7 linked regions of the Homo sapiens genome follow. The protein of the gene in region 3 purifies or fractionates together with the protein of the main gene of each other region. This does not show direct contact. Each region holds a gene or a part of one and is shown on either strand. Other genes may lie near its edges.

The links.
Region 1: the proteins of CERK (region 3) and DDX23 purify together in Homo sapiens (affinity purification with mass spectrometry; one large-scale study listed by BioGRID and IntAct). This does not show direct contact.
Region 2: the proteins of CERK (region 3) and RBM26 purify together in Homo sapiens (affinity purification with mass spectrometry; one large-scale study listed by BioGRID and IntAct). This does not show direct contact.
Region 4: the proteins of CERK (region 3) and WDR43 purify together in Homo sapiens (affinity purification with mass spectrometry; one large-scale study listed by BioGRID and IntAct). This does not show direct contact.
Region 5: the proteins of CERK (region 3) and CELF1 purify together in Homo sapiens (affinity purification with mass spectrometry; one large-scale study listed by BioGRID and IntAct). This does not show direct contact.
Region 6: the proteins of CERK (region 3) and CCDC174 purify together in Homo sapiens (affinity purification with mass spectrometry; one large-scale study listed by BioGRID and IntAct). This does not show direct contact.
Region 7: the proteins of CERK (region 3) and UTP4 purify together in Homo sapiens (affinity purification with mass spectrometry; one large-scale study listed by BioGRID and IntAct). This does not show direct contact.

The regions. Positions count from the first base shown.
Region 1 is NC_000012.12:48,831,735-48,835,487, reverse strand, and holds part of DDX23 (probable ATP-dependent RNA helicase DDX23), read left to right. Parts: intron 1-990; coding exon 991-1,168; intron 1,169-1,968; coding exon 1,969-2,211; intron 2,212-2,914; coding exon 2,915-3,066; intron 3,067-3,301; coding exon 3,302-3,410; intron 3,411-3,753. UniProt on the Homo sapiens protein: Involved in pre-mRNA splicing and its phosphorylated form (by SRPK2) is required for spliceosomal B complex formation.
Region 2 is NC_000013.11:79,371,418-79,375,716, forward strand, and holds part of RBM26 (RNA-binding protein 26), read right to left. Parts: intron 514-4,299; coding exon 425-513; intron 1-424. UniProt on the Homo sapiens protein: May be involved in the turnover of nuclear polyadenylated (pA+) RNA.
Region 3 is NC_000022.11:46,689,309-46,693,607, forward strand, and holds part of CERK (ceramide kinase), read right to left. Parts: intron 4,196-4,299; coding exon 4,119-4,195; intron 2,470-4,118; coding exon 2,264-2,469; intron 893-2,263; coding exon 684-892; intron 1-683. UniProt on the Homo sapiens protein: Catalyzes specifically the phosphorylation of ceramide to form ceramide 1-phosphate.
Region 4 is NC_000002.12:28,897,412-28,901,710, reverse strand, and holds part of WDR43 (WD repeat-containing protein 43), read right to left. Parts: intron 1-4,299. UniProt on the Homo sapiens protein: Ribosome biogenesis factor that coordinates hyperactive transcription and ribogenesis. Part of the small subunit (SSU) processome, first precursor of the small eukaryotic ribosomal subunit.
Region 5 is NC_000011.10:47,469,381-47,473,679, forward strand, and holds part of CELF1 (CUGBP Elav-like family member 1), read right to left. Parts: intron 3,852-4,299; coding exon 3,708-3,851; intron 2,998-3,707; coding exon of another isoform or gene 2,978-2,997; coding exon 2,850-2,977; 3' UTR 1-2,849. UniProt on the Homo sapiens protein: RNA-binding protein implicated in the regulation of several post-transcriptional events. Involved in pre-mRNA alternative splicing, mRNA translation and stability.
Region 6 is NC_000003.12:14,657,463-14,661,761, reverse strand, and holds part of CCDC174 (coiled-coil domain-containing protein 174), read right to left. Parts: intron 3,051-4,299; exon of another isoform or gene 2,972-3,050; intron 2,892-2,971; coding exon 2,833-2,891; intron 2,672-2,832; exon of another isoform or gene 2,572-2,671; intron 233-2,571; coding exon 55-232; intron 1-54. UniProt on the Homo sapiens protein: Probably involved in neuronal development.
Region 7 is NC_000016.10:69,166,301-69,170,036, reverse strand, and holds the end of UTP4 (U3 small nucleolar RNA-associated protein 4 homolog), read right to left. Parts: intron 2,963-3,736; coding exon 2,852-2,962; intron 1,217-2,851; coding exon 1,100-1,216; 3' UTR 1,016-1,099; downstream 1-1,015. UniProt on the Homo sapiens protein: Ribosome biogenesis factor. Involved in nucleolar processing of pre-18S ribosomal RNA. Part of the small subunit (SSU) processome, first precursor of the small eukaryotic ribosomal subunit.

The sequences.
Region 1 (3,753 bases), on a different chromosome or scaffold from region 3:
TCTGCCTGCCTCAGCCTCCCAAAGTGTTGGAATTACAGGCGTGAGCCAGTGTGCCTGTCCTTAATTTTTACATTTTTAGTAGAGATGAGGTTTCACCATGTTGGCCAGGCTGGTCTCAAACTCCCGATCTCAACTGATCTGCCTGCCTTGGCCTCCCAAAGTGCTGGGATTACAGGCGTGAACCACTGCACCTGGCTGAATCTCTGATTTTTATGTATTTATTATTTATTTATTTATTTATTTTTTGAGATGGAGTCTCGCTCTATTGTCTAGGCTGGAGTGCAGTGGTGTGATCTTGGCTTACAGCAACCGTTGCCTCCCAGGCTCATATCCTCCTACCTCAGCCTCCCAAGTAGCTGGGATTACAGGTGTGTTCGAACATGCCCAGCTAATTTTTGTATTTTTTGTAGAAACAGGGTTTTACCATGTTGCCTAGACTGGTCTCAAACTCCTGGGCTCAAGTGATTCACTCACCTCAGCCTCCGAAAGTGCTCGGATTATAGGCTTGTGCCACCTTGCCTGGCCTCTGGACTTATTTTTATTTTTATTTTTTTTGGAGACAGAGTGTCTCTGTCACCCAGGCTGGAGTGCAGTGGCGTGATCTCAGCTCACTGCAACCTCTGTCTCCTGGGTTCAAGCGATTCTTCTGCCTCAGCCTCCCGAGTAGCTGGTATTACAGGCGCCGGCCACCACGCCTGGCTAATTTTTGTATTTTTATTAGAGGCAGGGTTTCACCATGTTGGCCAGGCTGGTCTCAAACTCCTGACTTCAGGTGATCCGCCTGCCTCAGCCTCCCAAAGTTCTGGGATTACAGACATGAGCCACCATGCCCAGCCCTGGCCTCTGATTTTTAAGTGAGATCATTGCATTCTTTTCTCATCATCCTCCCCATTCCCATTGCTCCCCGTAAGAGTGACTTTGTCTTGCTCTGGCTTGTGGTTGGATAAGAACCAAAGCTCACGAAGCTGTGGGGCACCCTGTTTACCACAGGATCGAAGAGTCAGACCAAGGCCCTTATGCCATCATCCTGGCTCCCACCCGTGAGTTGGCTCAACAGATTGAGGAAGAGACCATCAAGTTTGGGAAACCGCTAGGTATCCGCACTGTGGCTGTCATTGGTGGCATCTCCAGAGAAGACCAGGGCTTCAGGCTGCGCATGGGTTGTGAGGTTTGTTTTTCTATCTAGCAGCCAGCCTGCTGTCTGGGAAGGCTATCTTGGGGCTTTGTTTCTAGTTTCTGGAATATATGTGCAGTAGTATGAAGAAAGGAGCTGGTTTATATATATGTGCTATTTATTGAGAACTTATGCACCAGGGTTTATATCACAAATAGTATATATCATATATATTAGCTCATTAATTCTCACAATAATGTATGAGAGTGGTATTTCCTTGTTATAGATCAAGCTGAGGTTCAGGTTAATAACTGCCTGAAGTCACAAACAGCTGGCAATGGGCAGAGCTGAGACTCATATCCATAGCCTGTGCTTTTAGTTACTCTTTACTCTGCCAGACCAAATCTTTGACTTTGTGCATTGCCTTCATCTCAGGAAAGTGGAGGAGAGCTCTTTATGAGAAGTCTGCTGTAGAAATTTAGTCTTTTTACAATTTTTTAAAAAAATTTAGTCTTTATACAACCCCCTTCATAGTACCCCTTAGTCTCTCCCATCTAAGAAGTTCCTTCTTCAGGATCTGAAATGATTTGCCAAAAAAAAAAAAGTTTCTACTGATTTTGCCTCCTCTGTCTAATCCTTGCACCTTACTCAGAGACCTCATTCATTCCTGAGAAAATCCAGGCAACAAGTGATTTCATGCCAGTTTGCAGGAGCCTTTACTGCTAAACATAACCAGAGGTTGGGGTCCAAGTTCCTCAGCATTGGAGGTCTGTCACCCAAGTGGGTGGATAGTTCACAGGAAAGAAAAGAAGGGGCACCTGCTGGGCTATAAATGATTATACTGTACTCCTCAGATTGTGATTGCTACCCCTGGGCGTTTGATTGATGTGCTGGAGAACCGCTACCTGGTGCTGAGCCGCTGTACCTATGTGGTTCTGGATGAGGCAGATAGGATGATTGACATGGGCTTTGAGCCAGATGTCCAGAAGATCCTGGAGCACATGCCTGTCAGCAACCAGAAGCCAGACACGGATGAGGCTGAGGACCCTGAGAAGATGCTGGCCAACTTTGAGTCGGGAAAACATAAGTACCGCCAAGTAAGGCTGCTTCCCTGGGCTGGGAAAAGTTGGACAGGCCAAGGCGGGTGGATCACTTGAGCTCAGGAGTTTGAGACCAGCCTGGGCAACATGGCGAAACTCCGTCTCTACAAAAATTTAAAAAATTAGCTGGGCATTGGTGGTGCACACCTGTGGTGCCAGCCACTCAGGAGGCTGAGGTGGGAGGACCTCTTAAGCCTGGGAGGCAGTGGTCGCAGTGAGCTGAGGTCGTGCCACTACTCCATTCCATCCTGGGCAACAGAGTGAGGCCCTGTCTCAAAAAAAAAGAAAAGTTGTACAAGGTTGCCAACCTCCTTTTGGGCCTTTCTTGCCTTAGGTGGGCTCAGAGTACATGTTTCTAGAATGAAGTGTGCCTAGGTACAGTCCTCTGACAGTCCTAAGGGTGGAGCCATTTAGCTTAGCCCTGGAAAAACGATTCCAAAGACTCATGCTGCTACCGGGACCACAGGTGCTAGCAAATGCTCTCAATCCTTCCTGTCATCATAAGATGGAAAGTGCCTTGATGAGCAGGTACTCAGGAAGGATGGGAATTCAGAGGACACTATTTTCTAAGGTGGTGGCTATCAAAGCCTATACTGTGGCCCATTTTAGATTCTTTAGTCTGGGCTGACCTGCCTTCGGTGACAGTGGGATATATGATTATTCCTGCCTGGGTGCAGGGCTGAGCCTCCTGTTTTCGTAGACAGTCATGTTCACGGCCACCATGCCCCCAGCGGTGGAGCGTCTGGCCAGGAGCTATCTTCGGCGACCTGCTGTGGTGTACATTGGCTCCGCAGGCAAGCCCCATGAGCGTGTGGAACAGAAGGTCTTCCTCATGTCAGAGTCAGAAAAGAGGTATGAGGGCAGCTGAGCCAGGGGAAACAGGGTGGAGAATAAAATGGCTCTGAGAACTTTTTTAGTGCAGGTGCAGGGCAGGGCAATTGCTCTGCTGTGTTGAAGAGCTGCTGTTTTCTTGGGCAGAATGTCATGGGCATTAAAGACCCTGAAAGTAGTGTTCATAGATGAGGGTTGGGCATTTCACTTGGAGTGGGAGGTATTATGCATCTTGTTTTTCTCCTCTTCCTTCCAGGAAAAAGCTGCTGGCAATCTTGGAGCAAGGCTTTGACCCACCCATCATTATTTTTGTCAACCAGAAGAAGGGCTGCGACGTGTTGGCCAAATCCCTGGAGAAGATGGGGGTGTGTCTGGCAGGGGAGAACAAAGTCTAGCCTCTGTGGCACTGCTTTCTGAATCTAGCAGGGCCCCCTAGGCTCTTCCTTTCAAGTCTCACCCTTTCTTTAGCCTGTCCAGCAATCAACAAGTTAGGACCAGGGTGAAGGGTGGTTTGAGGGAATAAAGAGAATGGAATCAATTGCTGGGACCCCCTGTCTGCTGCAGTAATGCCAGCCAAAGCTGCCTTGGGTCTTCATCCTGGTGAGGTGGAGCCAGGGAAAGGTTTGAGACCCATATCCTGGCAGTCTGAGGATGTAGAAAAGAGTAGGTGAAAACTGCTTAGGTACGTTGAGAGGAGGTGATATGGTC
Region 2 (4,299 bases), on a different chromosome or scaffold from region 3:
TATATAAGACTTAGAGTACATATAGAACATACTATCCCGTACATATAATCTCACTTACAGACATGTATCACATGCATTGTATTCTAAGTGCTTTTGAAGCCTGAATGAGAAAAACAATTTAATCACACTAAATGGAAACAGCAGGCAAAAAAAAAACACCCACACATTAAGATTCTACTGGAATCTGAAGTTAGGAATAAAAAGATAAGCAGCTAATATATGTCAAGCACTGTTCTAAACTCACTCCCAAGATCTACAAATCTGACCTAGATTTTCATGGTAGAAACGGACCTAGTTATATTTTCCTAGACCAATAAAAGAGTAGATATTACTTGCCTCTGCGTAAAAGATAACCCAAGTCTAAACATTTGTATAAAAGATAACTTACATCGAAACACTGAGTATGGTTCAATGAACTGCTCACCTATTTTCCCTGTATCGGGAGCTTGACTGGGGAGGACTGTGATTTAGCCTTCTAGAAAACTTCTTCTCTCGCTCTTCCTCCTTAGTGATCTGATTAAAAAAAAAAAAAAAAGTGTACAAGTTTAGTAATTATTCCACTGTTAAATAGCCTTAGATAGGGCTGGGCACAGTGGTTCATGCCTGTAATGCCAGCACTTTGGGAGGCTGAGGCGGGTGGTTCACGAAGTCGGAAGTTCGACACCAGCCTGGCCAACATGGTGAAACCCTGTCTCTACTAAAAATACAAAGATTAGCTGGGCACAGTGGCAGGGGCCTGTAATCCCAGCTACTCTGGAGGCTGAGGAAAGAGAATCGCTTGAACCTGGCAGGCAGAGGTTGCAGTGAGCTGAGATCGCGCCAGTGCACACTCCAGCCTGGGCGACAGAGTGAGGCTCTGCCTCAAAACAAACAAACAAACAAAAAAAAGCCTTAGACACATTACTGCTTTAATGACTTTATTAACATTAACATTTAATTAACATTAAATAAAATTTAATTAACATTAAAATTAGTTTATATAACGTAGAAGCAAAATTGTCATCTTCTAAAATTATCCAAACAAAGTAAATTTCTCTACTAAGTATAATCATTTAACTATAATGAAATGATTACATTGGTGAGAAAACATTTTAAGCAAGTATGCTCATTTAACATAATTAATGGAAATCCAATTTTATTCCTCTTTCAAAAGTCTAACATATATTCATGTTTTGGTTTCGTGGACTTGGTGTGGTACCAAACACATCAAGGAATATAGGAGAATACATTAGAACTCACCAAGTCATAAATACATACACACACACAAACATATACATGTTTATATATATAAATATATATTTACATATTATATATATTTATGTATCATATTGTAATTTATTATATATTTTATATTATATATAATTATATGATATATATTATAATTATATGATATATATTTATAATAAATATTTTATATAAATATATTATATATTATATAAATATAAATATATTTATAATATTTTATATGCTATATAAAATATATCTTATATATTACATATTTTATATAATATATAAGATATATCTTATATATTACATATTTTATATAATATATAAGATATATCTTATATATTACATATTTTATATAATATATAAGATATATCTTATATATTACATATTTTATATAATATATAAGATATATCTTATATATTACATATTTTATATAATATATAAGATATATCTTATATATTACATATTTTATATAATATATAAGATATATCTTATATATTATATATTTTATGTATTATATATTTATATAAATTTTTATATAAATATATAAAATATATAAAAATATATAAATATATATAAATATGTATATGTTTATGTGTGTATGTATTTATGACTTGGTGAGTTCTAATGTATTTATATATTTATATATAAATATATAAAAATATAAATAAATATATATAAATATAAAATATATATTATATATAAATAAAATATATAAATATATAATATATATTATATATAAATATATATAATATATATTATATACTATATATAAATAAAATATAAATATATATTATATATTATATATAAATATATATAATATGTATAAATATACAAATATATATAATATGTATAAATATACTTATTTATATATATTACTATATATATTTATATAATATATTTATATATTACTATATATATTTATATAATATATTTATATATTACTATATATATTTATATAGTATATTTATATATTATATATTACTATATATATTTATATAGTCTATTTATATATTTATATATTATATATTACTATATATAATAATATATAATATTTTATATATATATATTACTATATATAATAATATATAATATTTTATATATATATATCTGGGAAAACAATATATAAGGTGAAATAGTTCTCCAGTTTCTCACAGCAGCATGACAGCTATATATTTCTGTTTCCTACAAGGTGCCTCCATTCACATTATATAGCTACTAGAAAGCAACCTTGGAAAATATTCTCAGTGCTACTTTCTCCAGACTATATTGTTGAGAATAATGGTCCTCAACAACAGGAACGACAGGAATCACTGTTTTTCTAGGTAATTAGAAAAAGGGACTTAGAGGTTGAACAAATTCAGGAAATATCGTGCAAGTGGCTTCTATAAATAAGATAGGGCTCAAGATTTTGTGTTACTGAGAACCATAAGATATTCTCATGCAGGTAGTCTACGCACAGGGTACACATGTCCCAGTTTATGCCAGCTGTTCCAGCATCCTTTTGATAAGGGCTTCTGACTGTCAGAATGTACCACTTTATGCTGGGCACAGTGGCTCACACCTATAATCCCAGCACTTTTAAAGGCAGAGGTGGGTGGATCACTTGAGGTCAGCAGTTTAAGACCAGCCTGGCCAACACGCTGAAATATCATCTCTACTAAAAATACAAAAATTAGCTGGGCATGGTGGCACGCGCCTGTAATCCCAAAAGGGGATTACAGGAGGGATACTTGGGAGGCTGAGAGAGGAGAATTGCTTGAACCCAGGAGGCAGAGGTTGCAGTGAGCCACTATGGGGCCACGACACTCCAGCCTGGGCAATAGACTAAGACTCCGTCTCAAAAAACAAACAAAAAAAAGTGTGCCACTTTAGATGAGAAATCAAATGGAAATCCTATTAACAGACCAAACTAGGAGAAATAATCTTTAAAGCATTCTTTCAACAGTTTGCCTTTTTAAATTCAAGTACTTTCGTACTCTTTCCACCTATTCCAGCTCTCCTCCCAGACCAGACAAAAAACCGGGTACTAATACGACCCTTCTGATGCACTCTTTCCCTTCTATTTCCTCAATGCACTTTTGCGAGTTATCTAACAGATCACCATATTCCACAGTACATGCCCATCTGCAAACTTTTAGTATAGCCACAGCATTTTAAACGTAGATTGCCATCTGGCATTTCAACAATTCTGAAAGATCAGGGATAAGTATCTCCCACAATTGGTTGAAAAAACAGGAAGTATTATTACATCAATAGATAATAAGACTAAGGCTTTGCTACTAACTCGATTTAGGGGAAGACTACTCAAGCCAAGGGACTGTGATTTACTCAAGATTTTCTGAGAATTAAAGCATACATATAATATATATATTATATATATTTTATACATTTTTTATATACTATATATTTATATTTTTATATATTTATATGATATATATAAATATATATTTATATATATCATATAAATATATATTTATATTTTAAAAATAAATAATATATATTATTCATATTTATATATATTATATATATATATTTTTTTTTTGAGACGGAGTTTAGCTCTTGTCACACAGGCTGGAGTGCAATGGCATGGTCTCAGCTCACTACAACCTCTGCCTCCCAGGTTCAAGCGATTCTCCTGTCTCAGCTTCTCGAGTAACTGGGATTACAGGCACCTGCCACCATGCCTGGCTAATTTTTGTTTTTAGTAGCGACAGGGTTTCACCATATTGGCCAAGCTGGTCTTGAACTCCTGACCTAAGGTGATCCACCCGCCTCAGCCTCCCAAAGTGCTGGAATTACAGGCGAGAGCCACAGTGCCCAGCCAAAGTATAATTTTTCACAGCAAAAATCTGAAACCAAACCAAAGTTCCACCAGTAGGCAAAACTTGAATAAACCATTGCATATCTCTATGTTGCATAAGCAATTGCCAACACAATATACACCGTCCCTTTCTTCCTAACAGAACCCTTATACTGTTAGGTATGAAATAGGTTCAGTTATAAATTACATTTCTGGTCTTCCCAGGCAGATAAAACTGATTGGGATGTTACATGTGGGTATGTGTATAT
Region 3 (4,299 bases):
CAGCGGTTCCCTGGTGGATTCAGTGGACAAAGGACTGCCTGTAAAGGCGGTTTCCTTTGTTTGCCTTTTGAAATTTTTTTGAGATGGAGTCTCGCTCTGTCACCAAGGCTGGAGTGCAGTGGCATGGTCTCGGCTCACTGCAACTTCTGCCTCCTGGGTTCAAGCGACTCTCCTGCCTCAGCCTCCGGGGTAGCTGGGATTACAGGCATGCACCATCACACCCGACTAATTTTTTTTGTATTTTTAGTAGAGACGGGGTTTCACCATGTTGGCGAGGCTGGTCTTGAACTCCTGATCTCAAGTGATCTGCCCGCCTCAGCCTCCCACCTTTTGAATTATTTAGGAGAAGAGAGAGAGAATGCCAGGGCAAAGAGCCCAATGCCAGCCTGGAGCACAGGGTGTGGAAGAGGAAAAGAATGAAATGGAGGAGCTTCAAACACCCATGAAAATTATCTGCAAAACAAAATGCTGAGGACTCGGCACCCTGGCATCTTTCCAGAATGTGGGTAACGGCATCTCATTCGATATTTGACATAGGGAGAGAAAAGTGCATTTATAAAACATTCTTACGTTTTGTGTTTATAAAGCCCCAGGGAACCCCCCACCCTGGGTGGGGCAGCTTGTGACAGACACCTCAGGGCTCAAGGGGATGGCGCTGGTGGCTGGAGGACCCCTGCACGCACCTGACCTCGATGGCAGGGCTGTGCAGGACCTCCCCGTCGCAGTTCCAGGAGCTGTTGGAGACGGTGCAGCAGCAGGAGGGGTGGCTGCTGCAAATGTGCCCAAAGCGCTTCTTCCCCCCCTCCTTGAGGTCGCTGTCCTCATCCTCCATGTGCTTCGACGTAAACTGGAATTTCTTGACGCGATAAACTTCAACAAAAGTGAAGTCAAACTACCAAGAAACAGTGAGAGGGACCATTCAGCTCTAAACGTCATCGTCTGGGTGGGGCAGCAGAACACCCCAGGCCTGACAGCGAGCGCTGTCAGGCCTGGGTGCACACACGGCCCTTCTCGGAGGATGCGACTGCTTGTGCAGGCCCCTGGAGTTCCCTTTCCAGCTGAACTGACAGCTCAGAGATGAAGGGAAACCTGGCACCCACCTTTCCCGGCGCCCACCTTCCCCGGCGCCTACCTTCCCCGGTGCCCACCTTCCGCGGCACTTGTCAAAATGACTTCTAATGCTTTTAGAAACCACAGCTTATCTACAATGACGAACGCTTTTTACAGAATTCTGATAAATAATTAGCAGTGATTATTAGAATTTTGTATTCTCTTTTTAACAAGCACTACTTAAAAAGCCACATAAAAATAGCATTAGACTAGATCTTAAATAGAACTTAAGTAAAAAAAGAAATGTGACTAAATTTGGAGACTGTGACCAAAAGTTCCGCTTCCCCCAACATGACTAGACTCGGGTCTTCCTCTGCATAGGCTACAGAAAGATGTGGTAGAAGGGTCCGAACAGAACCCATTTCTGGGAGCCTAAAGAGTCTATTTTCAGTGGCCTGCAAGGGCCACTTACATCTTTACTGTGTCGCTTTGTTCTGTTTTTAAATAGGAAGAGAAACAACGGGTAAGAAGTTGTATTATAAAGATTCATACCTCTTAGTTTCTGTGCTCAAATACATGTGTGTGTATATGTATGTATGTATGTGTGTGTATATGTATGTATGTGTGTATATGTATGTATGTGTATGTATATACACATATATGTATATATACACATACACACACATGTATACATACATACACACACACACACACACACACACACACATATATTTGAGATGGAGTCTCACTCTGTCACCCAGGCTGGAGTGCAGTTGCGTGATCTCAGCTCACTGTAGCCTCCACCTCCTGGGTTCAAGCGATTCTCATGCTTCAGCCTCCCGAGTAGCTGGGATTACAGGCGCACGCCACCACGCCTGGCTTTTTTGTATTTTTAGTAGAGATGAGGTTTCACCATGTTGCCCAGGCTGGTCTCAAACTCCTGACCTCGGGTGATCCGCCTGCCTCAGCCTCCCAAAGTGCTGGGATTACAGGCATGAGCCACCGCATCTGGCCTCAAAAATTTATCGTTTTAAATGATATTTTACAAGGAGTAGTTGTAACCAGGAGTTTAAAGTTTGTGAAATTAAAAAAAAAAAAGTTTGCCCTTCCTTCCCTTGAATTAAATAATGAATTCCTACAACACATAAACCAGGGACTGCTGGAACATAAATTACTCGCCAGTGGAGGCTCCATGCAAGAGCACCCCACTTACCTGGTCCTGCTGGTTGGTGTGCCTGATGAGAAATCTCAGAAAATTGAACCTGGAGCATTTCCGGATGAGGATGAGGTCAGAAGACCCGTCTCCCAAGTGGGCAGCCGGGGAGAGGCCCCTGGGGCTCCGGCGACAAGCACAGGACATGTTTGTGGCATTGATGGCCAGAAACTTCCCACAGACGACTTGCCACTCCTCCACGTCCTCTGAAGCACAAAGAACCACGGAGATGTCACAGTTACAATGGCGCCGGGCAGCGCCCTGCACCAGGACGGTGGGAGGCCATTCGGGCTCTCACCTGCTCATGCATTTAGCAGACACTTCATGCAATCGACTCTTCAGCTCAACACCAAAAACATCCACCACGGAACTGTCCGCTCCCCGCAGGAAGTGGTACCCAAAGGATCACCTCCCAGAAGGCAGGACTGTTGTCCCTCTCCTCACTTGGTGACTTTTGGACAATTTAGAACAAGGGTCAGCAAACCAAGGCTGTGTGTCAGATCCGGCCCGCCGCCCGTCTGTGTGTGGCCTGAGAGCTAAGAATGCTTTTCACGTTTTTAAATCCTTGAAAAAGGTCTGGCGCGGTGGCTCACGCCTGTAATCCCAGCACTTTGGGAGGCCGAGGCGGGCAGATCACCTGAGGTCAGGAGTTCGAGACCAGCCTGGCCAACATGGTGAAAACCATCTCTACTAAAAATACAAAAATTAGCCAGGCGTGGCGGTGCATGCCTGTAATCCCAGCTGCTGGGGAAGCTGAGGCAGGAGAACTGCTTGAACCCGGAAGGCAGAGGTTGCAGTGAGCTGAGATTGCGCCATTGCACTCCAGACTGGGCAACAAGAGTAAAACTCTGTCTTAAAAAAAAAAAAAAAAAAAAAAAAAATTAGCCAGGTATGGCGGCAGGCGCCTGTAATCCCAGCTACTCAGGAGGCTAAGGAAGGAGAATCGCTTGAACCCAGAAGGTGGAGGTTGCAGTGAGCCGAGATCGCGCCACTGCAATCCAGCCTGGGTGATGGAACAAGACTCTGTCCCAATAAATAAATAAATATTATTGACTGGGCATGGTGGCTCAGACCTGTGGTCCCAGCACTTTAGGAGGCTGAGGCAGTCAGATCACCTGAGGTCAGGAGTTTGAGACCAGCCTGGCCAACATGGTGAAACCCCATCTTTACTAAAAATACAAAGATTAGCTGGGCATGGTGGCACATGCCTGTAGTCCCAGCTACTAGGGAGGCTGAGGGAGGAGAATCGCTTGAACTCGGGAGGCGGAGGTTGCAGTGAGCTGATATTGTGCCCCTGCACTCTAGCCTGGGCGACAAGAGTGAAACTCCATCCAAAAAAAAAAAAAAAAAAAAGAAGAGAAAGAGAAAAAAATCAAAATAATAATATTTTGTGACATGTGGAAATTCTATGAAACTTAAATTTCAGTGTCCATAAATAAAGTTTCATCGGCAGATGGCCATACCCACTCACTGTACACTGCCTAGGCTGCCTCTGCTGGACAGAGACTGTGTGGTTGCCAGGGCCTGAGGTGGTCACCAAGCAAGCCCTCAATGGGACATCTGCTGCCCCCACATTCTAGAGCACCTGGGACAGGAGTCCAGACTCAGCACCACAACAGCGTTTCAGAAAGGGTAACGGGGCCTTTCACAAAACCCACTGCTCCACACAGCCACACACGGCAAGTAACAGTGACCTGACGCTGCCTGGGGCTAAGAAGAAATGGATGCCTGGTGCCAGACAGGAAAAAGGAAAAGCACAGGTGGGCAGGGAGAAGAGGCAGTGCCCTGAGAGAGGACAGAAACCCGCACTCCAGCACACACAGTGACAACACTGAGCCTGTGTTTTAGGAATTACCCGCAGCTTCCAAACCATACAGTGCTTTCTTCTGCTCCTCCTCCAGCTGCTGCTTGCTTTGCCTGCAAACAAAGCATCTGAAAGACAAGAATATCATCACCTTTTAAATATGGAGCTGCAGGTGCAGTGCGTATGCTTGGCACATATAGATGTATTTACATTCTTTTCACATACGAAAAAA
Region 4 (4,299 bases), on a different chromosome or scaffold from region 3:
AAGCCTCAATGCTGTTTCCACTTCTCAGAAACAGGCCGCCCCTCCTGACAGGTCCAACCTAAGCGAAGCCTTCACTCCCCAACCAAAGAGATTCATACCCAAAAATCTATGAATCCGTAAGTCCATATCTAAGCAGCCAACTCTCCTTTATCTCTCCTAATTTTTCCACAAATTCTAGCTTAGTTGTCAAGAAAAGAGCCTCAAAAGTTTTTACCTTTATAAACGTGCATTAACTTCAATTTGAGTCAACAAATAGCTTTAACTAGTAGAGCAGCTCAGAGCACACAAGAGAGAAGTTGCCCCACTGACTGGTCAAGGGCTGGCTCAGTGATTCAGTGACTTCAGAGACAAAAGTCTCACTCAAGTGGCAAATGCCACAAGACTTCTTTCATTTCAAAAGTGATGTTAACAGCTCATGTCTTCCCAACAAAAAGACAATGACCCTAACTTAAAAGCACTACATCAGTTTATAATGCTGAGTATTTATTATGATTTCAGAACTTCTCTTCCGTGTTTTTTTAAATTACGGCTCACCAGCCTATATGTTTTTAGCATAAAGTTCTGAGAAATCCATTCTTTCACTGTAAAACAAGCCAATACCATAGAAAAGAGAATATCTTCTTAATAGTGCAGGATCTTAGCTCTACAGCACGCATGGGCATGCACACAGCCCAAGACACCTAAAAATCTGTCTTAATTCAAGAAAAACCAATGACAACCACAACGTTACCAGTGCATAAAGAGTGTCAGGGAGTAGACTTAAAAAGCACTTTCCATTTTTTTCTTTTAGTTATCCTAGGGGGATTTTACATTTAAAGAATTTGATTCATTGGACACAGATGAAATGCAGTCTAACAAAAAAAGGTAACCTACTTACAGAAAAAAATAATACACATCTTGCAAGTCCTTAGAAATATATCTTGCAAGTCCTTAGAAATGTACTAATAAACACAAAAGAGAAGTTACAATTAAAAGCCAAAGTACAAAGTCTGATGGTCTCATTTAACTTGTTGAAACATTGAAACCTCAATTTTAGGAGTGTTCTAGGTCCCCGTTTCAGTTACATGAATTTCTAAAGCTACCTTTGAATGATTCCAGGGGCAAAAATAATTTCTGTATAAGGTTATAAATACAAACACCTATTTCAGGCAAGGAGAGTTGGGGGAAGTACATTAACCTAGTACCATCTCAGCAGGAAAAGATTCATCTTTTTAAAAAGATTCCAAGAAGGCTGAGTGTGGTGGCTCACGCCTGTAATCCCAGCACTTTGGGAGGCTGAGGCAGGTGGATCACGAGGTCAGGAGTTCAAGACCAGCCTGGCCAACATGGTGAAACCCCGTCTCTACTAAAAATACAAAAAAAATTAGCCGGGCGTGGTGGTGGGCGCTAGTAATCCCAACTACTCAGGTGGCAGAGAATTGCTTGAACCCGGGAGGCAGAGGTTGCAGTGAGCCGAGATCCTGCCACTACACTCCAGCCTGGGCGACAGAGACTCATCTCAAACAAAACAAAACGAAAAAAAGATTCCATGAAATCTTTCTTCTACTCTTGGTTTTCCCAAATAAAAACTATCTAAATGGAAGTTTCTCGATGTGTGAAACAAAGACAGGTCCAAATATGCGTATGCTTTATTGCCAATTTGAATTTCCATTAAAAAGCACAAAGAAATTTTAGAAATTTACATAGCCTATGTCAAGCATAACATAGTCAAAGCCTTAATTTCTGCATCTGCAAATCTCTGTATTTTTTGGTAGAAGCAAGCAGGGGCAGGCGGAAGGAATATCTACAGCATTTATGACCAACTTTAAGGATAACTGGTCTAAACCTAAATATTACTCCAATTTATTGAACTTAAAGAACTCAGGACTCATTTATTTTTCAGGTTGGATGGTCTTTATTCAGCAGGATAAGCATATTTAAAAAGGTAACACATCAGACCAGAAGTGTATATAACCAATGTACATTTTAATGAAAACTGATACTCCAAGTATTACCCATACTAAATATTTTTCAAACCAAGAGTTTAGTGCTACTGATTATAGATGAGAAACTTCTGTTGGCATTTACTATCTAAACATGTTATTCCTGTGATCAAAAAAACTTCAATGACTCTCCAGAGAATAAATCAATATAAACAGTTCTATGGCATTTAAAAGCATCCACAATTTGCCTTCAACCCACCTTCTCTAGTCTTATCTCCAATTCCATCCTTAGGTTAACACTCCCTATACACCCATTTTCCTATTTTGCTTTTGCTTTTCCTTCACTTGGAAGGGGACCTTTCCTACTCACCTCAATTTTCATTGGTTAAAAATCCTATCCATGCTTTAAGGCCCACCTCAAATACCACCTCCTCCACGGAAACTTCTTTCCCTTAAGACACATGTCATACCCTGCATTAGACACGGCAAATATGAAATGTATTTCTTCTTTTACACTTTAGTCACAGTCAGTTGTGTTTCCTCTTAAGTGCCCAGCACAGATTATACAGATAAATATATTAAGTAATAAAAAGGTAGGCTAAAAAATTTAGTTTATATATTTGTAACTGGAAAATCTCAATTCCTGAAGGCATCAGAAGTGAATACCCCAAGGAGGTGATTTCTCGGACTAAGGAGTCTTTTCCACCATGAAGGGCAAACTGAGTTAAGCAACGAATACTGAAACCTGTCTTATGAGAAAAGCTTATCAGCATTTGATCCATCATCAGCATTTGATCCAGAAACAATCAGAAGGCTGAGGGAGAATCTGAATGGCACATGTGCATAATTTATAAAAGCAAGGAGTTGTACAGATGGGATGAAGACAGAAAAAAGCACATTCAGGTGATGAGAAGTCTGAATTTGTACAGCAATTAAAGTAATGACTTTTTAGACTAAAATCCCAGAAAAAGAGGAGTTTTACATGCAGTCACTACACTCTCATAAAAATACACATATAGAAACAAGCTTCACAGAGAAACTTCCCACGGCTAGTAGTACTCTGATACTTTCCATTCTATTTTGTTTTTTTTTTAATGTTACAATCCACTAAGTTTATTACATAATCCACTAATGGATCAAAATCTGCTCTGAGAAATACTGAACTCTAGACACCAAAAAGTATGCCAAGTTTCAAGTTTCATTCTGCAATTAGTCTCCTAATCCATTTCTTCATCTATCTCACTGCCACTGCATGTGTGTTTCACAGATAACAGTGAACAAAATGTATTCATTTTACAAAAAATCACATACAGTATTTATAACAAATCAATTAAGTCCTAATACACAGAAACTTCTATTTCTGCCAATCAGATCTATCTGCAACCTTTACTTCTTAGGAAGTTTAACTGTTAGCAAGACCTCAAGACAGACCACTGCACAGCACATGTGAACTGCCCTACATCTCTAAGGGATGGTAATGCAGATACCCAACTCAGACACCCTGTCCAATGTCTGAAATGCCATGTGCTTCATTCAACAAGTACTAAGCTGTATAGGGTCATCTTAATTGCAGTGACAGCAAAGCAGTATAAACACATTTACTGTGATAGCCAATAGCAGACAAGGTCTGTTAGAGAAGGAAAAGCAGAAAAGTCGGAAGACTTTCAAAAGTTTGAAGACAATCAAATAGCAGCATCAGTTCCTAGGTGGCTCAGTCACTTTACTATGTGGCTTTGGTAGAGAATATAATTAACATTTCTGCCTCAGTTTACACACATAAACTTGAGGAACTCTTAAAAACAGCATCCATCTAGATAGAGTCCCTCCATTTGTATTTTTGCACTTTCCTATCTTCTTGTCCTCATTAAAGGTCCTCTTCCCCCAGGCTCCAAAGACCAAATGGAATGCTCAGCTACATAACGTACAAAAACCCTCTAAAAACTATTGTGGCACGAATGCAAAGTATTGTAATCATTCTGTGACCAACAAGAGGTGACAATCTAATTTTTCTAAACACCTGTGAACCACAAACTTAACCCGTTACCCAAGAAACCCAGCACTAACTAATCTTTCTCCATTGATGAGTTATCATCACCACACTTTGTCCTTGCGTAGCAAACTGCCAATTACTAAACCAAACATAGAATACTTTTCTTACAAATTGATTTACCATATTAAATGCCAAATTAAATGGTAAAACGAGTCCAGATTCACTCAATAATAACATTTATTAAGCCACTTATTACATACTAGGCCATACTACACCAGTCACATACATTGCCTAATTTGATCCTGAGGATCCTAAAAGGTGGGTGATGATACCTCTATTTCAAATTTGAGAGTACTATATGTCATCATATAGCAGGACCTTAACAAA
Region 5 (4,299 bases), on a different chromosome or scaffold from region 3:
GGAGACAGTGGTCTGGCTGCATTCAAGGCAAATCAATTTCATGATGTAACCCAAGTAAGAAACAAAACTACAGCAGAAAACACATTGTAAGTGAAACCTTCACACAACAGAAAAGGATTGCTTAAGACTTGACAGCGAGTCTCCACTCTGAGCTGAGCCCTTTCACACGTGAGACTTGTAGGGGAGCAGCTTCTTCACAAAACCATCTTTGGCCTGGGGAAAGAACTGTGCTCAAGGGCAGTGCTACTGCTGTGCTAACTCACTGGGCAGGGGGAGGAGAGAACAGAGAAGTGCATGGTCTCACCAGCTGGCTGCTCAAGCAGCCCAGGACCCTGCTGGGGCGAGCATTCCTTTTAGAAAAGAAAACCCATCAGCAGGTATGAAGCCCTCAGGGTCTGGTATCAAAGGTGGGTGGATTGCACCTTGGCCTCTTATGTCATTAGGAAAGGGGTTTCATAAGGTCCCAGAGCCCAGGACAAATCCATGGACAAATAATGGTGAGATGGGGGAAGGCGGAGAGAAGAAGGGGATGTGGGAAGGGAGTGGCGTTCTGGCTAAGGAGGAAGACAGAACAGAAGGCTAGGGAGCACAGCACCGGCAGCACCCTATGGAGCACAGCTCTCTCCTCTGCCAATTCACAGCATTAACACCTTCCCCTTGGGCAGGTTAGCTGGGCTGCAAACGGGCCACAGAAAGTCAGTAGTTTCAATCATACACAGCACCCTGTGTGTATAACAATCACATTCTGGATTCTACAAAATCCTGGCCTTTTCCAGAGATATAATTTAGGTAATAAATATTCTCCACCCCGGAGCTGTATAAAACTTCTATAAAAATAGAAACGACATTCTTGGTTCCAGCCGGTTGGGATTCAGAACAGCGCCTCCCCAACCTAGCATTTTTTTCTTTTTTTTTTTTGTTTTCTTTTTTCTTTTTTATTTTTATTTTTTGCATTTATTTAAAAAATCCCATCATGACCCTGGAAGCCTTTAGAACAGTTTTATCCTTTGAAACACAGGACACATTTCTCCCAGTGCGCAGAATTTCAAGTTTACGTGGTTCAGCTTAAGAAGTGTATGTTTCACGTTCCTTAGAGGACAACAGACCCAAGTTATCACTATGAGAAAGGAACAGCTGTCCCAGCTTCAATGGGATAATCCAACACCACCAGCTACCTGTACAACAGTAAGATGGTCAATCCCTGTCTGTTACCCACAGGGACAGCATGACAAGGAGAGAGCCCCCATCTGACTTAATAGCAAACCAACCCCTTTATTCTTATCTCTGCTGCTAGGGGTCAAGACTGGTATTTGTTGAGGTTTCAGATTCCAGAGACCCAGGGATCCCATCCCTGGCTGTGGCTACAGTCACATCTTAACAGGGCCACCTCTGCCCAGGTGTACATTCCCAACAGCATGTCCTTCCTGGTTCTCTACCCCCACAGCACTTCTTAGAGCAGAGGCAGAGCCCAGAAGCTGTGTGGGTCACAGGCAAGAGCTGAAGTAAGACCTGCAAGAGGCGGCAGGGAGCTAACTGTAGCACGAGGACAAAAATGAACACGGTAATACTGAGGTAAATGAACACTCAATTCATGTGGAGGCTGTAAACGTCCTGATGTCACCTCTGCCTCAAGAGCAGAAAATGTGACTGGAGTGGTTACAGGAGGGGCCTGCCAGACCCCTGTGGGAATACTACATCTGGGACACCTCAATCAAGGAGGCAAGGGAGAATTTCTGGCCACTGGCAAATGAAGCATACTGGCTTGCAGGGACCTTCTGATTCAAGTACACCAAGAAATAAGCTCCTCCTCCCCCAACTAGATGGTATTGATCACTCTGCCCACAAATGGTACCCCCTTCAGCAAGAACTGCAAGCCCTTCTTGGATTTGCCTTCATGAGAAAATGGTGGCTTGGGATGGAGGTGACATTCCTTGCTGTGGTGAACTGCAAAGAAGGAAACCAGGCAATGTATTCCATAGAGGCCTTTAAAGAGACCCGTTGGAAATGGGCCATGGTCTAATTTGGTGTTGAAATAAACTAACCTCTTTGGCTGTTTCTCCCAAACTGCCACCAGCCAGGCAAGGCCAATCCAATACTGACTGCTGGCTGGGGGAGCTCGTAATGGGTGATGCCGCCCTGCTTTTTGCATATGTCAGGCTAACAGGTGCTTTATTTCCAGAGAATTGTTAATGCCCTTTTTTGAAAAGAGCAGCAGAAATTCCGGACAAGAATCTGAAAAATAGGTGTCAAAAACTATTTCCCAGAAGGTAGCTGTACAGGAGTTTGAGTCTCCAGCTGCCAGGGCATTAGGTGTCTAGTCACTCCACTCTTCCCCAAAGCCGCTCTGCTCCCCACAGCTCCCAGGTGTCAGTTCTCATTCTACCCACCCTCACACTAAGAGAGGTTCTGGGGGTCACTTTTTTGTTCCACTCAGTCCTCTCTCTTGGGGTGGTTTGGGGCAAATCCTGATCATCGTCTGTGTTAAATGTTTCCCTGTCCCCCTTCCCCAGGGTGGTTTGGTGTTGGTCCTTCTCAACACACACTGGTTACAAACACAGCAAACTTTAAATAAAGGAGAAACAAAAACAAAAACAAAAAAAACCTCAGGATATGGCACCTAAACTCCAAAGTAAAACACTGGAAACCAAAGCACAAACTTGTCCTCTGTACGAAGCGAAACTCCCACAGAAGGCAGTAGCCGAGTCTTCAGGGCAAGCTGTGCCTGCGAGAGTGGCAGGGATCAGGGTCCAGGGCTGTCAACACACAGCCTCAGGGCTTCGAATCATTAAGGGTGCTCCTCCCCCACTTACCAGAAGACCCTCTCACTCCAGTCTCAGAGGGGAGCACGCTCAGTAGGGCTTGCTGTCATTCTTCGAACGTTTGAGCTGCACTTTAAGCCGCTTCATGCCAATCTGAAAGCCGTTCATGGACTGGATGGCAGCTTGGGCCGAAACAGGATTGTCGTAACTTACAAAACCTGTGTGTCCAAGCAGAAACCTAGGTGAGGGACATAATGAGGCAAGGAGATTCTCAGTCCTCCTTATGCAAGATACCTTATGTGCTTCATCTCAAATCCCAATTTTATTCAGCAGGGACAAGAAATCTGGACATTATGTCATACGAAATAAATTAGGTTCTTAATAGTACCACTTAACAGCTACATGGTAATTTAAAGGTTTTTTTCTTTTTCTTGAGACAGGGTCTTGCTCTGTCACCCAGGGTGGAGTACAGTGGTGTGACCATGGTTCACTGCAACCTTGGCCTCCTGGGCTCAGGTGATCCTCTCACCTCAGCCTCAAGTAGCTGGGAACACAGGTACACGCCACCACGTCTGACTAATTTTTTGTAGCCATGAGGTCTCACTCTGTTGCTCAGGCTGGTCTCGAACTCCTAGGCTCAAGCGATCCTCCTGCCTTGGCCTCCCCAAGTACTGGGACTTACAGGCACAAACCTGGACTGTTTAAAGGTTTTTTTGCAAACCATTTTCCATATATTATTTTTCTCTCTGGAGCAACAGTGTGGGTAGAAATCCTTACCTCCACTACAGCAATGAGAAACTGGGGCTCAAAAAGAGGTCATAATGACCTGCCCATGGCCAAGTTAAAACAACACCACAAACTCATATTCAGATCTTTCTGCAGTGAGCTCCTTCTTTCTCAGTGGTAAAATACTAATCCCATCCTGACACCAGAGAGAAGCCAACATACCAAAACACTTGCTCAGGTTTGTCTGCTTGTCTATGAAAACCTTGGCAGACACGACATTCCCAAAGGGCATAAACATCTGCAGCAGGTCCTGATCACCAAACTCCTGGGGCAGGTGGTAGATGAACAGGTTGGCTCCCTCTGGACCTTCAAAATACCCAGGAATTGGAAAAGTATCAGTGTCAAACATGCTCGTCGCCCTGCACCAGTGATCTTTCATTTCCACCTATGTTAAAACTGTCACAATCCCTAAAAACAGAGATTCATCTGGGGAACTAAACAGATTCTCTAAATACAAAGCAAGGAACCAAAGGCAAACATTAAAACAGATTCCTTCCCTCACATTCAGCCAAGCTCCATCTCATTGAGGATGTGAGAAATTCTACCCGCAGGAGGAGGAGTGTTGGGATAATAAAGCAGGCCGACTTGTGTGTGGAGCAGGAAAACAGAGACTGTAGGCTCAGAGAGGAACACAGAAGAGGAGGTGAAAAGGGGTTATAAACAAAACAGGTTTCCAAATAATGCCTAGAAACCACAGGGACAGCAAACAGATTGGTAGTTGCCAGATGCAGGGAATGACTACAAAGGGGCACGA
Region 6 (4,299 bases), on a different chromosome or scaffold from region 3:
ATGTCAGCGCAAGTCTGAGGATGTTCCTCTGAGCTAATCCATGATGTTACCAACCATTCTTCACTGGGGTCTTGGGGAGGAGGGATCTCTCCCTCAGGAAGGTTTTCCTCATCGTCGTCCCTTTCTCCTGCCTTTTGAGAATCTCTATGGGCACCAGATGCCTCCATTTCTTTGCGCTTGTCTATGATCTTCTGTGTGAAATCCACAAGGTACATATCCTCTACTTCTTCATCTAGGACATAAAAATCAGTTTTCAGACATCAAAAAGGAAAATCACACATGGAATGGACAAGAAGCAGTCACATTCATTGCCTGGTGGCCCCATCACCCCTGACAGCTCATCAGCCAATGCCTCCACTCCCCAAATGTTTACAAAGACACACAGCTACCTTGGGAACTGACATATACTACACAAAAAAATCTTGAAAAAGCCTAAAGTTTTCTATTGCCTCATCAATACACTACCTGAGTGAGCAAAACCATCTTAGAATGTCATTTTAAGATAACACAACAGTCTGATTTTATGCAACTCATCCAACCAATTACATCATACGGAAGCAAAACTGCATTTTCCGTGTCATCAGATCAGGACAGTAGAACTTCTTGCTTTAGGCGTTATATATCTGTCTCACCATGTGGGCTGGATCACTAACCCTGATTATACTGCTGTGGTATGGTAAGTGTTTTAAAGGTCATAATACAGGTAAAAGAAGTCATCTGAGTTCTTGTCAAGCCAATGAACACCAATTCCAGGCAAGGCATAGAGCCCGGCCCTGCAGGGCATATACAGATATGCAAGACACCCTCTGCCTGCAGGGCTTATGGTCCACTCGAGGAGCTAAAACACACACTGAAAGTTAAACAACAATCCATGACTTACCTAATTTAACCCAGGATAGCTCATGTAGCACAAATAATGTATACCTAAAGTTTCACTATGCTGGATTTAGGACACAGTCATTTGAGTCTTTTTCTCTGATGACAGAGATTAAGCTACATTGAACCCACATTAAGCTCCCTATTACCAGGGGTGGTGTTTTCCCCACCTTAGGGTGAAGAAAAACTGAGGCTCCAAAATATAACTTGCCCAAACTTGCAGGTCTGACATATCTATCAGGAGGTAGGCTTGCTGGCTTTGACAAAACCAGGTCTCTACCTTCACACTCCTTTGGACCTGATTTCTATATTAACAACATAAGTAAAGTTTGAATCAAAACAGAAAAGACTTTAATAAAATAAACTTTTTTTTTCTTTTTCTGAATCTGAATCTCACTCCGTCGCCCAGGCTAGAGTGCAGTGGCACTATCTTGGCTCACTGCAACCTCCGCCTCGCGGGTTCAAGTGATTCTCCTGCCTCAGCGTCCTGAGTAGCTGAGACTACAGGTGCCTGCCACCACGCCTGGCAAATTTTTGTATTTTTAGTAGAGATGGAGTTTCGCCATGTTGGCTGGGCTGGTCTCAAACTCCTGACCTTGTGATCCACCCGCCTCGGCCTCCCAAAATGCTGGGATTACAGGCATGAGCCACCACGCCTAGCCTGAAATAAACTTATTTTTTAAAACCATGAAATACCTGAAATGGAGAGGAAATGTCTGAGTTATAAGGCCATAGGCTAGTGAGGCCTCCTGGTAGGCGGCCATCCTGCTGCCCCTTCAGGAAGAAGGCAAAACCTCTCCCACAGTACCTAGCTTTGTTGAGTGTCTGACCTTCCTGTGCCAGGCTCCTGCTATACAGGGAAAGTGCCCCTGCTGTCTGGGAAGAAGCGGTCAGGGACCTAGGACCAGCCTGGCCTCTCTCCTACTGTACCTGGGCCCCAGCCATGCTAGGCTAGGTGACTCTGTTGACCTCTGGCCCTGCCCTCCTCAGCTGGTCTGCTTACCAATCTACCCCTGCAGGATCCCTTTCTCCAGCTTGCCAAAGCTAAGCCCAACTTCTCCCAAAAGACTTCCCTGATTACATATTCACTCTCCCTGCCTCATAAAATCTCTTCTACTGTTGTCTAATTATGGATTGGGTTTTTTCTGGGGGATATGAGAAAAGGGAGTTTTTTGTTTTTTTTTTAGAGATAGGGTCACACTCTGTCACCCAGGCTGGATCATAGCTTACTGCACCGAGGATGCAGTGGCATGATCAACAGCTCACTGTAATCTCAAAGTCCTGAGCTCAAGCCTCAGGCTCCTAAATAATGGGACTATAGGCATGAACCACCATGTCCAGCTAATTTTTAAATTACTTTTTGTAGAGACAGAGTCTCACCATGTTGCCCGGGCTGGTCTCAAACTCCTGCCATCAGGTGATCTGCCTGCCTTGGCCTCCCAAAGTGCTGGAATTACAAGCGTAAGCCACTACACCCAAACAGATTTAAAGCAATTATAAGCACAGCACAGAAAAAAAATTGAAAATAGAGGGAAAATAGGGAAAGAAGAAACATAACTCTAGCACCTAACAGAACCACAATTCCACCCAGCCCAACCCACCCTGTTTTAGCACAGCTGTAATTGTAGGTAATTGCGGCCTACTCAGACATTGTTCCCTAACTTTGCTTTGTTCTGTGTCATTTTCCTCCACCAGATGACCCTGCCTTGAGGGCAGAGACAGAGGATCTGGCTTCCAGTACTTGTTTGTCCCTTCCAGGCACCTAACATGCTGCCAGGCACCCACTAGACAATTGGTAAATTATTGCTGATTTTCTTGTCTCTGTGCAGCCATGGAAAGTAAAATTTTGACGTCTAAATTTTCTCTCTACTCCTACAGTTATTTTAACAAGTAATGTAATATCAAAGGGCTGTATGCATTATAGAAAATGAAGTAGAAATAACAAATTTTATTTACCTATAAAGTCTCCTTTAGTCATTTTTTCATATAATTTGGCTTTTTCTTCCAATTTTTCCCTAGGAGAAAAAAAATACAAGTATTAGAAATGGTCTTATAACTGTTCATCCTGGTTGCCCCCACACTCCCTGCCTGACAGGTACCATCTGCCCATGAGGCCCAGCCTGTCAAGACAACCACAACCAGCACAGACCACACCATCCTGAGGAGACCCTCAGACCACCCTGCCCCATGTCTGCTCTGCCAAGGAAAACAGAAGCTCCGTGAGTGCATGGCCTGTGTCCTCTTATTTATTACTTGGTCCCAGGGCCTAAAATAACACTTGGCACACAGTAGGTTCTCAATCAATATTTGATGAATGAATAAGTGGATCAACTGACTTAAGAATCCAACAACTTAATTTAACTGCCAACTTAAAACAAATGTCAACATTCCAACAAAGCAGCCTCTCTGCTCACAGTAATTCTGATGACATGTATTTTTCAGTGGTACAGACCATGAGAGGGTAAGCAATTCTTTATTCTGGAAATACTTAATGATGGTAAAGAGAAGCCCCAAAGAGTTCTCTTGTGGATGATCTGCGAGTTCTCTTGTGAATGACCACTCTTAATCACAATGTCAGAAACATTCCTCTTTTATTTTACACATCCATTCACCAAGTACTTATTGCACACCTCCTACCTGCCAAGCACTGTTTTAGGCACTGAGGACTCACAGGAACAAGAAAAAGTCCCAGCTTCCTGGGAGTTCCCATTCTAGAGATGGAGAAGGACAATAAAGAAAGGAATGAAAAGGAGGACCTGAGACTGTGAGAAGAGCTGTGAGGGGAAGAAACGCATGCCAGCAGAGAGGCCCCTTGACATGCAGTAATGCAGTGCATGGTGGACCGGCTCACTCATATCAGGCTTCTAAGACCCCTATTTTGGAGGGCTCTTACTGTAACTAGCTGGTCATCAGAGGATCTTACTGTTTTAATGAAAAGAAAACTAGAAAAAATTTAAAAGTCAAACAGAACACAAAGCAACAAGTGTCAGGTTAGAGTGAGTGGGCAGGACACTAACTGAGAGAGGGCAGTCAGGGGAAACCTCTCTGAACATGAAAACGGAGCCATGGCTTGCACAGCAAGAAGCAGCCAACCACAGGAGGATCTGGGGGCAGGGAAGGCAGGTCAGAAAAAGGAAAGATTAAGTGAGGATGAGCTTGACATTTTCAAGAGAGACCAGTAGAGCAGAGGGTGCTGAGCAAAATAGAGAATGGTGCAAAATAGAGACAGAGACAGGCAGGGATGAGAGCACGTGAGAAAGGATATGAAACTTGGTGCAGTGTAGCAACAGTTTTCAGGGGTTAGGAACAGACTACAAATGGATAATTGAGATCAAGGAAGGTGTCAGGGAAACGGCCGCTGGATTTAGTGGATGAGGATGTCACTAGTGACTTTAAAGAACAGTTTCTTCTGTTGAGTTAGAA
Region 7 (3,736 bases), on a different chromosome or scaffold from region 3:
ACTTTCTAATTTAAAGATCACATTAAAACTGGCCAGTTGATAACACACGTGGGAATAACAATGTCAGAGCAGGTAGAAGAGAATGAAAAATGTGAAATACATGGTGGGCTCTCGGGTCCCCATCTCTACTCTTAATCCCTAACAAAATTCCTGCCCAGTGTTTCCTTACCCTTTTTTTTTTTTTTTTTTTTAAAGAGACAGGGTCTCACACTATGTTGCCCAGGCTGGAGTGCAGTGGCTATTCACCAGTATGATCATAGCACACTATGGTCTCAAGCTCCTGGGCTCCACTGAGCCTCTCGAGTAGCTGGGACTACTGATGTGTGCCCAGCTCCTGTATCTTTTTTTTCATATTGTATTTCTTTAGGGATAGGGTCTCCCTATGTTGCCCGGGTTGGTCTCTGGACTCAAGGATGCTCCCACCTTGGCCTCCTAAAATGCTGGGATTACAGGCATGAGCCACCATGCCTGGCCCTTCCATACCTTTTGAAACCAGCACATAACAGGTAAAAAGGCAGTTAATGGGACTGATAACCCAAGCTTTTTTTACTTTTAAATAAAATTAACGGCTGACTGTCAAAGGTCAAAGGCATCTATTTTTTAGATGGAGCACTCCCTTATAATGCTGGAGTTGAAATTCTTCCTTGAACTCTAAGGCTGATTATGGTTATTAGTGGTCAGGCTATCCTGGGTAAGTAATTACGGTCCTCTGCCCTCCAGGGCGAGGATGGGCAGATTCCTACGCAGTTCCATGGGCTGGGGGCTGGCAGGAAGTGAAGGCTATCAGCTCTCTGAAGCCTTAGGCATGTAATAGGGAACAGAACACAAATATCTTTTCTTCTGAGATTGCGGCCTACAGAATAAGCAGGACTCAATCAACATTAGATGAGTTTGTAGCTACTGAGCACATTATCCCCAATACAAATACCTCATTTGGAATTTCCATTCATTTTCATTCAATGAAGGGAAATGACTGTCCATTATTTTGGAAGAAAACATTTATAATGACTAGTCCTCAAGAATAACTTGTTTTATTACCATGATTTGTGAAAAGCAACAGGGTAGACAGTTCAAGGAAGGACACAGACAGTGCCCTGTTTTAGGTTCCAAATTTCTTCTTTTTAATGGGTGGTGGGAGCTGAGCAATGATGTCATCCAGAGGCCGTTCTACTGCCACGAGTGTTCTTTCATCCAAAAGATCCATGAAGAGTAGAGGCTGCAGAGGGATGATAATTATTCTATCAGGACTTAGGATCCAGGGCTAGTCCTGAAAGAACTGACTGTAGGTAGACACCATCTAAGCTAAAAGGTTAGCCTAGTTCAAGGCTCAAATGATTTAAATTTCTTGACAATCTTTCCTGCCCTGGGACTCAAAATAGTTGGAATGCATAAAAGCTTTTTTTTTTATTTTTTAGAGATCTTGCTATGTTGCCTAGGCAGGAGAGCAGTGGTCATTCATAGACATGATCAACGTGCACTGAAGCCCTGAACTCCTGGGCAATCATCCTGCCTCAGTCTCCTGAGTAGCTGGGACAATAGGTAGGTGTGCACGGCTGCGCCTGGCTCAAGATTGGGAGCCTTTTTTTTTTTTTTTTTTTTTTTTGAGACAGTCTCGCTCTGCCGCCCAGGCTGGAGTGCAGTGGCGCAATCTCGGCTCACGGCAAGCTCCGCCTCCCGGGTTCACGCCATTCTCCCGCCTCAGCCTCCCGGGTAGCTGGGACTACAGGTGCCCACCACCACGCCCGGCTAATTTTTTGTATTTTTAGTAGAGATGGGGTTTCACCGTGTTAGCCAGGATGGTCTCGATCTCCTGAACTCGTGATCCGCCCACCTTGGCCTCCCAAAGTGCTGGGATTACAGGCGTGAGCCACTGCGCCCGGCCAAGATTGGGAGCTTTTAACTAAGTTCACTCATAAAAGGTCTCAGCAGGATTTTTTTACATTTCTCTGGATAGAAAATCTATGCTTCTTATATCTCAAGAATCAATGTTAAGCAAGGACTTTAAAGCCTAAGTTCTTTTTTTTCTCAGACAGAATCTCGATGTTACCCAGCCTGGAGTGCAGTGGTGCAATCATACTCACCGCAGCCTTGAACTCCTGAGCACAAGCTATCCTCCCATCTCAGCCTCTTGAGCAGCTGGGACTACAGGCATGCTCCACCACACCTAGCTAATTTTTATATTTTTTTTTTTTTTGTAGAGACAGGGTCTCACTATGTTGCCCAGACTGGTCTTGAACTCCAGCCTCAACCTCCTAAAGTACTGAGATTACAGGCGTGAATCACCATACCCAGCCTAAGGCAACTGACAACTGGCAAGCTACAAATGCATCAAGAAGCTAATCACATTTGAGTCATTTGAGTAATCAGTAATTTACAGAACTCTCCTTTTTTTTTTTTTGTTAATAGTGATGGGGTTTCACCATGGTGCCCAGGCTGGTTTTGAATTCCTGGGCTGAGGAGATCCACCTGCCTTGGCCTCCCAAAGTGCTGGGATTACAGGTATGAGCTACCAAGCCCAGCCTGCTTGACATTTATCCTATGGAACACTCCAACAAGTAAAATTTAAAGCCAGCTCTCATGACAACAAAGACTCTACCCTCAGCGCCAACATTTCTCACTACTTACGCATTTCATTTTGGTTAAGTATGATGTGCCTGCCTCTAACCTACTAAGGCAAGAACAATAAAACATATACAAGGGACAGCCAGCCTCAAAAAGGTGACTTGTCTCCCACAAGCCAGGTTCTCTGCATGGAAACTGAAGGTGCTCTTATCTTCCGATTGTGGAGTTTATTACATTTTGGTATCACAAAGGAACCAACTATCCAGAATAACAACACAAGATGTTTTACCTTATATATCTTAGAAATTTTAAAAGCATGAGCTGTGCGCCTCCGGATGACATCTGATTCATTCGTGGGAGGAAATGGATTGTAGAGTAAGGTTTTGTCATTTGGAAGGGGCTAAAAAAACAAAGACACATTGTTTAAATGGTTACTTTTATTGGGCTTCTGCAGACCAAAGATCTGTAGTGCATTTTGAGCCCAACATCATCTTCTAACCATCATATATATTCAGTACCTCCCTGACATTCGTTAATTCGGGAAAACAGCTGTAGCCATAATACCTCTATTCAGAAAAACTAGGGGGGAAAAAAAGAAGAAAAGGAGAGAGAGGGAGAAAGAGCTGAAGCTACTCTTGCAGCCACACTGTAGAGGGTGGGTGTATGAGGCAAAGAGAGCTTGTTAACTCCATGCAGCAAGATCAAAGGGCCCTTCTGCGGCTTCTGGCCTGTCTCATCAGTATCACTTTGTCAGAATGGAACAAACTGGCAAGTGCAGGAGCTCAGCCCACACAGGGTCTGTGCTTTCTAGACTCTCCCCCAACCAGATCACAGACTGGACAAGTGACTGGAGTTCTCCCCAGGCGAAACCTCAACACAAACCACCTGTGCTGATGTCACTGACACCTCGAGGTGGCCTCTGGCCAAAGAAATGATATTTTGTCTCTGACTTCCTGGGAAATAGCTATGCCTACTGTAAGGAAGCGATGAACTTAAAGCCAATGCTTTGGAAAAAATGATCTGGGCTCAATTACAAAGAGGCAAGAGAGTGGGAGGGGCCCTTCCTGTATCACTCATCTTGCAGAAGGCACTTGTCAGCCAGCTCTGCTTCCCACACCCAGAGGTCGCAGGGCCCACGAGATGATTCCAGTGACACATCCCCGTGCACACCTCC